Linked DNA regions of Homo sapiens. The protein of the gene in region 1 purifies or fractionates together with the protein of each later gene. This does not show direct contact. Each region holds a gene or a part of one and is shown in the gene's direction. Other genes may lie near its edges. The genes, in order: OSCAR and COL2A1.

Region 1 (4,061 bases):
CCCAAGACAAATATATTTTCCTATAGTTTTTTGAATACTTTTATAGTTTAAAAAAAAAGAAACACAGGGTCTTTAATTAATCTGGAAGTTGTTTTGGGAAATGGTATGAGGTAGGGATCCAACATTTTTCTTTTCCAAATAGCAAGTTTTGGCAACTCTTGAAATACTATATTGCAAATATTCTGGAAAGCTATTTAAAATTAGAGTTCTGGCTGGGCGTGGTGGCTCACACCTGTAATCCCAGCACTTTGGGAGGCCGAGGTGGGAGGATTGCTTGAGCCCAAGAGTTCAAGAGTAGCCTGGGCAATATAGCGAATGCTCGTCTCTACTAAAAATTAAAAAAAAAAAAATTAGCCTGGTGTAGTGGCATGTGCCTGTGGTCCCAGGTACTCAGGAGGCTGAGGTGGAGGACTGTTTGAGCCCAAGAGATTGAGGCTGCAGTGAGTTGAGAACATGCCACTGCACTCCTGCCTGAGCAACAGAGCAAGACCCTGCCTCAAAAAAAAAAAAAAAAAAAAAAAAAAAAGTCTGGGTGTGGTGGCACAAGCTTGTAAACTTAGCACTTTGGGAGGCCGAGGTGGGAGGATTGCTTGAGGCCAGTAGTTTAAGACCAACCTGCTCAACATAGGGAGACCGCCCCCTCCCATCTCATTACTTAAAAATAATAATAATAATAAAATTACAGAGTTCTGGGACCTGACCTTTTGAAACTGTGTTTACAAACTGTGGAGTAAAGCTCAGAAGTTTCTGTCCTGCCCCTCTGATTTGCACCTGGTTTTAACAAGGCTTGATTGTAGTCCAGTCTCTCCCTGATTTTACAAACAGGAAACTGAGGCTAAGAAAGGGGCAGTAATTGTCCAAGGTGATTTTCCTCCTTCCCCAACTTCCCTTTCATCTTCTGGGGCTCCCAGGAGGCCCGAGGACCCAGGCAGCCCCGTTTATTCAGTCCCCCCAGCTTCATACCACCCTAAGCCATGGCTGGGAGCTCAGCCGGCTACAGTTGTGACCCCTGGGGTCAACGTGACCTTGAGATGCCGGGCACCCCAACCCGCTTGGAGATTTGGACTTTTCAAGCCTGGAGAGATCGCTCCCCTTCTCTTCCGGGATGTGTCCTCCGAGCTGGCAGAATTCTTTCTGGAGGAGGTGACTCCAGCCCAAGGGGGAAGTTACCGCTGCTGCTACCGAAGGCCAGACTGGGGGCCGGGTGTCTGGTCCCAGCCCAGCGATGTCCTGGAGCTGCTGGTGACAGGTGAGGTCCTGGGGTCGGGGAGGAGAAGTGGGTGGAACAAGGGAGTTGGGGGAGGGACAGAGAGATATAGGGAAAGAGAGACAGAGCGAGGCGGGCAAACAGATTCACAGACACAAGAAAAGACAGATACAGAGACACTAGGGGGAGAGAGAGAGACAGGGGAGCAGAGAGAGAGAGAGGTACAGTGCGGGGGGAGAGAGAGAGAAAGAGGCAGAAGGAGAAAGGGAGGCAGAGAGAGAGGGAGGCAGAGAGAGAGGGAGGCAGAGAGAGAGGGAGGCAGAGAGAGAGGCAGGCAGAGAGAGAGGGAGGCAGAGAGAGAGGGAGGCAGAGAGAGAGGGAGGCAGAGAGAGAGGGAGGCAGAGAGAGAGGGAGGCAGAGAGAGGGAGGCAGAGAGAGAGGCAGGCAGAGAGAGAGGCAGGCAGAGAGAGAGGGAGGCAGAGAGAGAGGGAGGCAGAGAGAGAGGGAGGCAGAGAGAGAGGGAGGCAGAGAGAGAGGGAGGCAGAGAGAGAGGGAGGCAGAGAGAGGGAGGCAGAGAGAGAGGGAGGCAGAGAGAGAGGCAGACAGAGAGAGAGACAGGCAGAGAGAAAGAGAGGCAGAAAGAGAGAGAGAGGCACAGAGAAAGCGAGAGACAGAGGAGAAGGAGAAACAGAGCGAGCGAGCGAGCGGAAGACGCTCACGCGGCCCCGGACTCTCACCCCGTCTCTGCAGAGGAGCTGCCGCGGCCGTCGCTGGTGGCGCTGCCCGGGCCGGTGGTGGGTCCTGGCGCCAACGTGAGCCTGCGCTGCGCGGGCCGCCTGCGGAACATGAGCTTCGTGCTGTACCGCGAGGGCGTGGCGGCCCCGCTGCAGTACCGCCACTCCGCGCAGCCCTGGGCCGACTTCACGCTGCTGGGCGCCCGCGCCCCCGGCACCTACAGCTGCTACTATCACACGCCCTCCGCGCCCTACGTGCTGTCGCAGCGCAGCGAGGTGCTGGTCATCAGCTGGGAAGGTGAGGGCCCTGAGGCCCGGCCCGCCTCCTCCGCCCCAGGAATGCAGGCCCCAGGACCTCCGCCCTCAGACCCAGGAGCCCAGGCCCCCAGCCTCTCCTCCTTCAGACCCAGGGGTCTAGTCCTGCAGCCCCTCCTCCCTCAGACCCAGGATTCCTGGGACCCAGCCCCTCCTCCCTCAGATCCAGGAGTCTAGTCCTCCAGCTCCTCCTCCCTCAGACCCAGGATTCCCGGGCCCCAGTACCTCCTCCCTCAGACCCAGGACTCCAGGCCCCCAGCCCCTCCTTCCTGGACCCAGGACTCCAGGCCCCCAGCCCCTCCTTCCTGATCCAGCAGTCCAGGCCCCAGCCCCTTCTTCCTGGACCCAGGAGTTGAAGCCTCCATCGACTCCCCCTCAACTTTGAGACTGTAGAGTCAGGTCCCTAAGTCCACCCCAGGGGCTGGAAACCTGGAGTTCAGGGCCCAGACTTTGGGGTCCGGGAGCTGATGGCCCCTCTCTCCCGGCTCCGCCCGCAGACTCTGGCTCCTCCGACTACACCCGGGGGAACCTAGTCCGCCTGGGGCTGGCCGGGCTGGTCCTCATCTCCCTGGGCGCGCTGGTCACTTTTGACTGGCGCAGTCAGAACCGCGCTCCTGCTGGTATCCGCCCCTGAGCCCCAGGAGCACTGCAGCCCGAGACTTCCAACCTGAGTGGCGGAGAAGCTGGGACCCTGGGCTGGACTGTCCTTTCCTGCAGCCCCACAGTCCTGCTGGCTGAGCTCCGCGGAACGGTCCTTAGACCCCGCTGTGCCCTGTGCTGTAGCTTCTTTCCAGGCCTTTCCCAAGGAGTAGCTGAAAGGAAGACGCGATTAGTGGTTAAGACTTCCAAGCCAGAAGACAGAGGGTTCGAATCCCAGCACTGCCGTCTACTCACTGTAGTAGTAGCAGCTACAGAAAGGTAGTAGTGAGACGTGAAGCCAGCTGGACTTCCTGGGTTGAATGGGGACCTGGAGAACTTTTCTGTCTTACAAGAGGATTGTAAAATGGACCAATCAGCACTCTGTAAGATGGACCAATCAGCGCTCTGTAAAATGGACCAATCAGCAGGACACGGGCGGGGACAATAAGGGAATAAAAGCTGGCGAGCGCGGCACCCCACCAGAGTCTGCTTCCACGTTGTGGGAGCTTTGTTCTCTTGCTCTACACAATAAATCTTGCTGCTGCTAACTCTTTAGGTCCGTGCCATCTTTAAGCGCTGTAACACTCACCACGAAGGTCCCTGGCTCCATTCTTAAAGTCAGCGAGACCACAAACCCACAGGAAGGAACCAACTCTGGACACGGTAGCAGCATTCAGAAAGCGCCCTTCCCCAACTCTCTCTTGCCTTGACGGTAAAATGGATGCACTGATAAAACCCACTTCATAGGATTGTTGTAGGAGTCAGTGGGTAATACACATAAAACATTTAAAGCAGTAACTGGCCCGTAGTAAGTGTTCAATAAATGTTAGCTACCCTGTAACACCGATTTCTACCAGACTCAGTGCCGAAAGGAAGGTCTCACCTTTTTGCCATCAAGCATAATCAAGCACGACTTTTTCTTTCTTTCTTTCTTTCTTTTTTTTGAGAGAAGATCTCACTCCACCCAGGCTGGAGTGCAGTGGCGTGATCTCGGTTCACTGCAACATCCGCCTCCCGGGTTCAAGTGATTCTCGTGCCTCAGTCTCCTGAGTAGCTGGGATTACAGGTGTGCGCCATCACGCCCAGCTAATTTTTGTATTTTTAGTAGAGATGGAGTTTTGCCAAATTGGCCAGGGTGGTCTCGAACTCCTGACCTCAAGTGATCC
Region 2 (3,687 bases), on another chromosome or scaffold:
GATCTGCAGGCTCCTGGCCTTGCTGTCATCTTACCATGTTCTTCACCTTCAGGGACCTGCAGGGGAACAAGGACCCAGAGGGGATCGTGGTGACAAAGGTGAAAAAGTGAGTAAAAAGCAATGCTGCTTGACCCTGGTGGACTTCCCAGGTCCCCCAAGGCCCCACCATGTGTTTAAGGGCCTGGTCACCTCTTAAAGAGCAGCCAAGGGACAGATGGCTCTTGGAGAAACACTGCTTCCCATTGATGCCTTTTTCTCTTTATGCCAAGGGTGCCCCTGGACCTCGTGGCAGAGATGGAGAACCTGGGACCCCTGGAAATCCTGGCCCCCCTGGTCCTCCCGGCCCCCCTGGTCCCCCTGGTCTTGGTGGAGTAAGTATCCTTACTTCCCATTCCTTCAGGCTGTCCCTCCAGAAATGTGGCTTTTAAATTGCTGCTTGCACTTACCTGGCTGGCTCCCAGGGCTGCCAGCAGTGTGTACATAGCCTGTCCATGGGCTTTGCCCTCAGGCCTGTAATTTAGAAGAGTCACATATTAGGCATGAGACTGTGGTGCTAAGGGCTGGCTTTTTTCACTAACTGGGATTCTATAAAGAAAGTCCTCAGTTACCTGGCTTCCTGGCATCTGTACCACGTAGTTGATGCTGGGGGGTGGGTGTAAGGGATAGGAGGAAGGATGACTGGGCACTTGTATTTCCCTGGAAGACGAGTGACCACTGTCCTTGGAAGACATTTATCCTTGGTTCTTGCCAAGTACATTCCAAGCAACTATTCACTCTCATGAAAGAGCTCCACTGAGTGAAGGTGTGTGGCTAAAGTCAATTCTGGAATCAAACCAATCAACAAATTATATGATTGCCTAGTTTTTGCAGGTTTGCTATTTTGATGTTTGCTGTATTTTAAATTCTTAAACTCAAATGGGATCACAGATGCCTACTACATCTCTTGCTGAAATATTCCAAGACTGTTGATTTTAGTCTTTTGCTGGGCACTAAAGTCTTAAAGAATAAAGAACACCCTTAGAAGGTTTGGTTATGTTTCTCCATATACGTTAAATAACATCTGTCATATTTTAGAGCATAAAAATAATTTTATAAAATGAAATGCAAGGAACTGATACTTCCTCAAATAACACTTTCCCTTCCAGTGAAATGATTTTGCCACTGTCATCTAATAATCCATTCCCAAAATTACTTTCCAGGCATCAGTGGTAATTCTGATCAATGATAGGTTAGTCTCCAACAATCAGAGTTTATCTCAGTAGAGTTCTTTGTATCCATATAGAGCTTACCTAGCCAAGTAGGGAAGACCTAGTGCCTTTCAACCTCCTAACGTTGTTGGGTTTCTTTGCAGAACTTTGCTGCCCAGATGGCTGGAGGATTTGATGAAAAGGCTGGTGGCGCCCAGTTGGGAGTAATGCAAGGACCAATGGTAAGAAAAGACACTAGTTCTTTGCAGCCAAAATGGCAGGAGGTGGCCCTTAGCAGAGCCAGAGAGTCTGACAACCTCTGCTTTACAGATAATTGCTTAGAGTGGCTCTCCTCCGTAGTTATGTAACCTCCCATTCAGCTAGCCCAAAGCATTTGGTTTTTAATGGCAATGGATGCCACTTTTAATGATGCGCTGGAGTGACTAAGAAGAATGAAGATGGGGAGATGCATATAGGCTGATCTGTTAGAAGACCAGTTGCTATTGCTCTTGGAATGAGAACTGAAGAATGCAGACAGCAGCTACTGTTCTCCAGCATCCACAGACTTCCAGCAGGAAATCTCAGCCCGCAGCTCTGACTTGGCACATGCTAAATGAAACTCAGCCTTTAGTAAACATGGCTGCTGTCCAGGAGAAAGCAAGGCCAGCTTTTCTGTCCAAATGGTGCCTATAAATAAAAATAGAGTGTTGCGTGGGGAGTGGGAAATGAGAGGGAGCAGCCACTCTAGGCCCCTTGCCCACAGAGTAACTTCTTGTCCTTTGCCCGGGCTGTTGGCTGGGAGAAGATGGCACACTGGAGGCCACTGAGGAAGCATGTGTAGTAAACCCCTCATTTTCTGTTCCGATGCAGGGCCCCATGGGACCTCGAGGACCTCCAGGCCCTGCAGGTGCTCCTGTAAGTATCTGCAATTCTTTTTGCCTCCATCGTGTCGCAGATGATTCCCAAGCACTATGATGTTTTAGCAGTTTATAGGGATTGACCTGGTATCCTCATTTTACTTTTTAGGGGCCTCAAGGATTTCAAGGCAATCCTGGTGAACCTGGTGAACCTGGTGTCTCTGTGAGTACCAGCACGGCCCTGTCCCTTCTCTGGGGGAGCCTCTAATGATAGACCACTAGGACCGCAGCTGCTGTCCCTCCCAGGCTCTGCCCAGCTCTTTCCCACAGTCGGTGGCCCCAAGGAAATTCGGATGTCACTTCCTAGCTGTGGAGGAACTCTGACAGACAGCCCAATGTGGCAAGGACCACCAGGGACTCTGTCCTAACAGCCCCCTTTCCGGGTCACCCCAGCCTGTGCTATCTGCTGCGTCCCACTATGATCTCTGCACCTTTGCTCTGACCTTCCCATCTTTCTTCTTCATAGAAGAACTGGCTTCCAAAACTACAATGTCAAAGTTTTGTCCATTGCTTAGGTGTCTTCCCACTATAACCATCTCTTAAACTATCTTCCTTTGTTTGTAGGGTCCCATGGGTCCCCGTGGTCCTCCTGGTCCCCCTGGAAAGCCTGGTGATGATGTGAGTATACACGAGTAGACAAATGAGGAGCTGCCTCCTTTGAAAGGGCCTGGAGAGGGTGTGTGCTTGGGGAGTGACAGGGAGGCACCCAGGGTGGAGGTATCTTGAGGAGCAAGACTGGGCAGTCCCAAACCCTGACGCCATCTCCTATCTATATGGCCACTGTGACTGTGCTGGCAAGTTCCCTGGGGACCGCTTTGGATCCAAGGGGAAGACAAATAATTAAAACATCATTAGCCCCAGGAAGGGAAATTGAGAAATGAGAGAAGGGAGAGAAAAAATACAAGGCAGAAAGATGTAGAGAAGGAAAAACAAAGAAAGAAGCGTTCAACAACCCAGCATTATCTTAATTGTAAATGAGTTAGAAAAAGCACAGCCTGAGTCAGGATGTCTACAAAGGATGCAAACGAAATGAAGAGACAAGAATTGGCACTCTTGTGCTATTTTTATGAATTGCATTAGACAGTAAAAGTCTCTTGAGGTTAGAGAGAGCACATACAGTCAGCAGAACCTAGGAGAGGAGAGAAAAAGCCTCTCAGGGGAAGTTGGAGGCTGGTGAGGACAGAGGAGCTTGCCCATGGGCTATGCATGTGTCCAAAAGAATAAATGGTGACCCATGAAAGGCATCCAGGCACGTGGAGTCTGAAGGAGGTGAGGGAGATGAGTGAGCCGGTAGGCAAAGGCATGGAGGGCTGGAAGGAGGGAAGCCCTCTGGGGTGCCCCCACTATGCTACTGCGTCTCTGAGGAAGCTGGGATATCTCTCTCTCTCCCTTCAGGGTGAAGCTGGAAAACCTGGAAAAGCTGGTGAAAGGGGTCCGCCTGGTCCTCAGGTAAACGCCACCGTTCCCAGCCTCAGGCATCTTTCCTAGCGTCTCCCTCCCTGTGGCCTTAAACACAGTGCATCCAGTTCAATGAGGTCACTTCTGAGATGAAACGCCAGTAGCCCCTATATTTATCACGACCA

Evidence for each region.
Region 2: the proteins of OSCAR (region 1) and COL2A1 purify together in Homo sapiens (affinity purification with mass spectrometry; one large-scale study listed by BioGRID and IntAct). This does not show direct contact.

The regions. Positions count from the first base shown.
Region 1 is NC_000019.10:54,094,050-54,098,110, reverse strand, and holds the end of OSCAR (osteoclast-associated immunoglobulin-like receptor isoform 4 precursor), read left to right. Parts: intron 1-946; coding exon 947-1,249; intron 1,250-1,957; coding exon 1,958-2,239; coding exon of another isoform or gene 2,240-2,433; exon of another isoform or gene 2,434-2,753; coding exon 2,754-2,890; 3' UTR 2,891-3,443; downstream 3,444-4,061. UniProt on the Homo sapiens protein: Regulator of osteoclastogenesis which plays an important bone-specific function in osteoclast differentiation.
Region 2 is NC_000012.12:47,994,290-47,997,976, reverse strand, and holds part of COL2A1 (collagen alpha-1(II) chain isoform 1 precursor), read left to right. Parts: intron 1-52; coding exon 53-106; intron 107-269; coding exon 270-371; intron 372-1,351; coding exon 1,352-1,429; intron 1,430-2,057; coding exon 2,058-2,102; intron 2,103-2,213; coding exon 2,214-2,267; intron 2,268-2,668; coding exon 2,669-2,722; intron 2,723-3,499; coding exon 3,500-3,553; intron 3,554-3,687. UniProt on the Homo sapiens protein: Type II collagen is specific for cartilaginous tissues. It is essential for the normal embryonic development of the skeleton, for linear growth and for the ability of cartilage to resist compressive forces.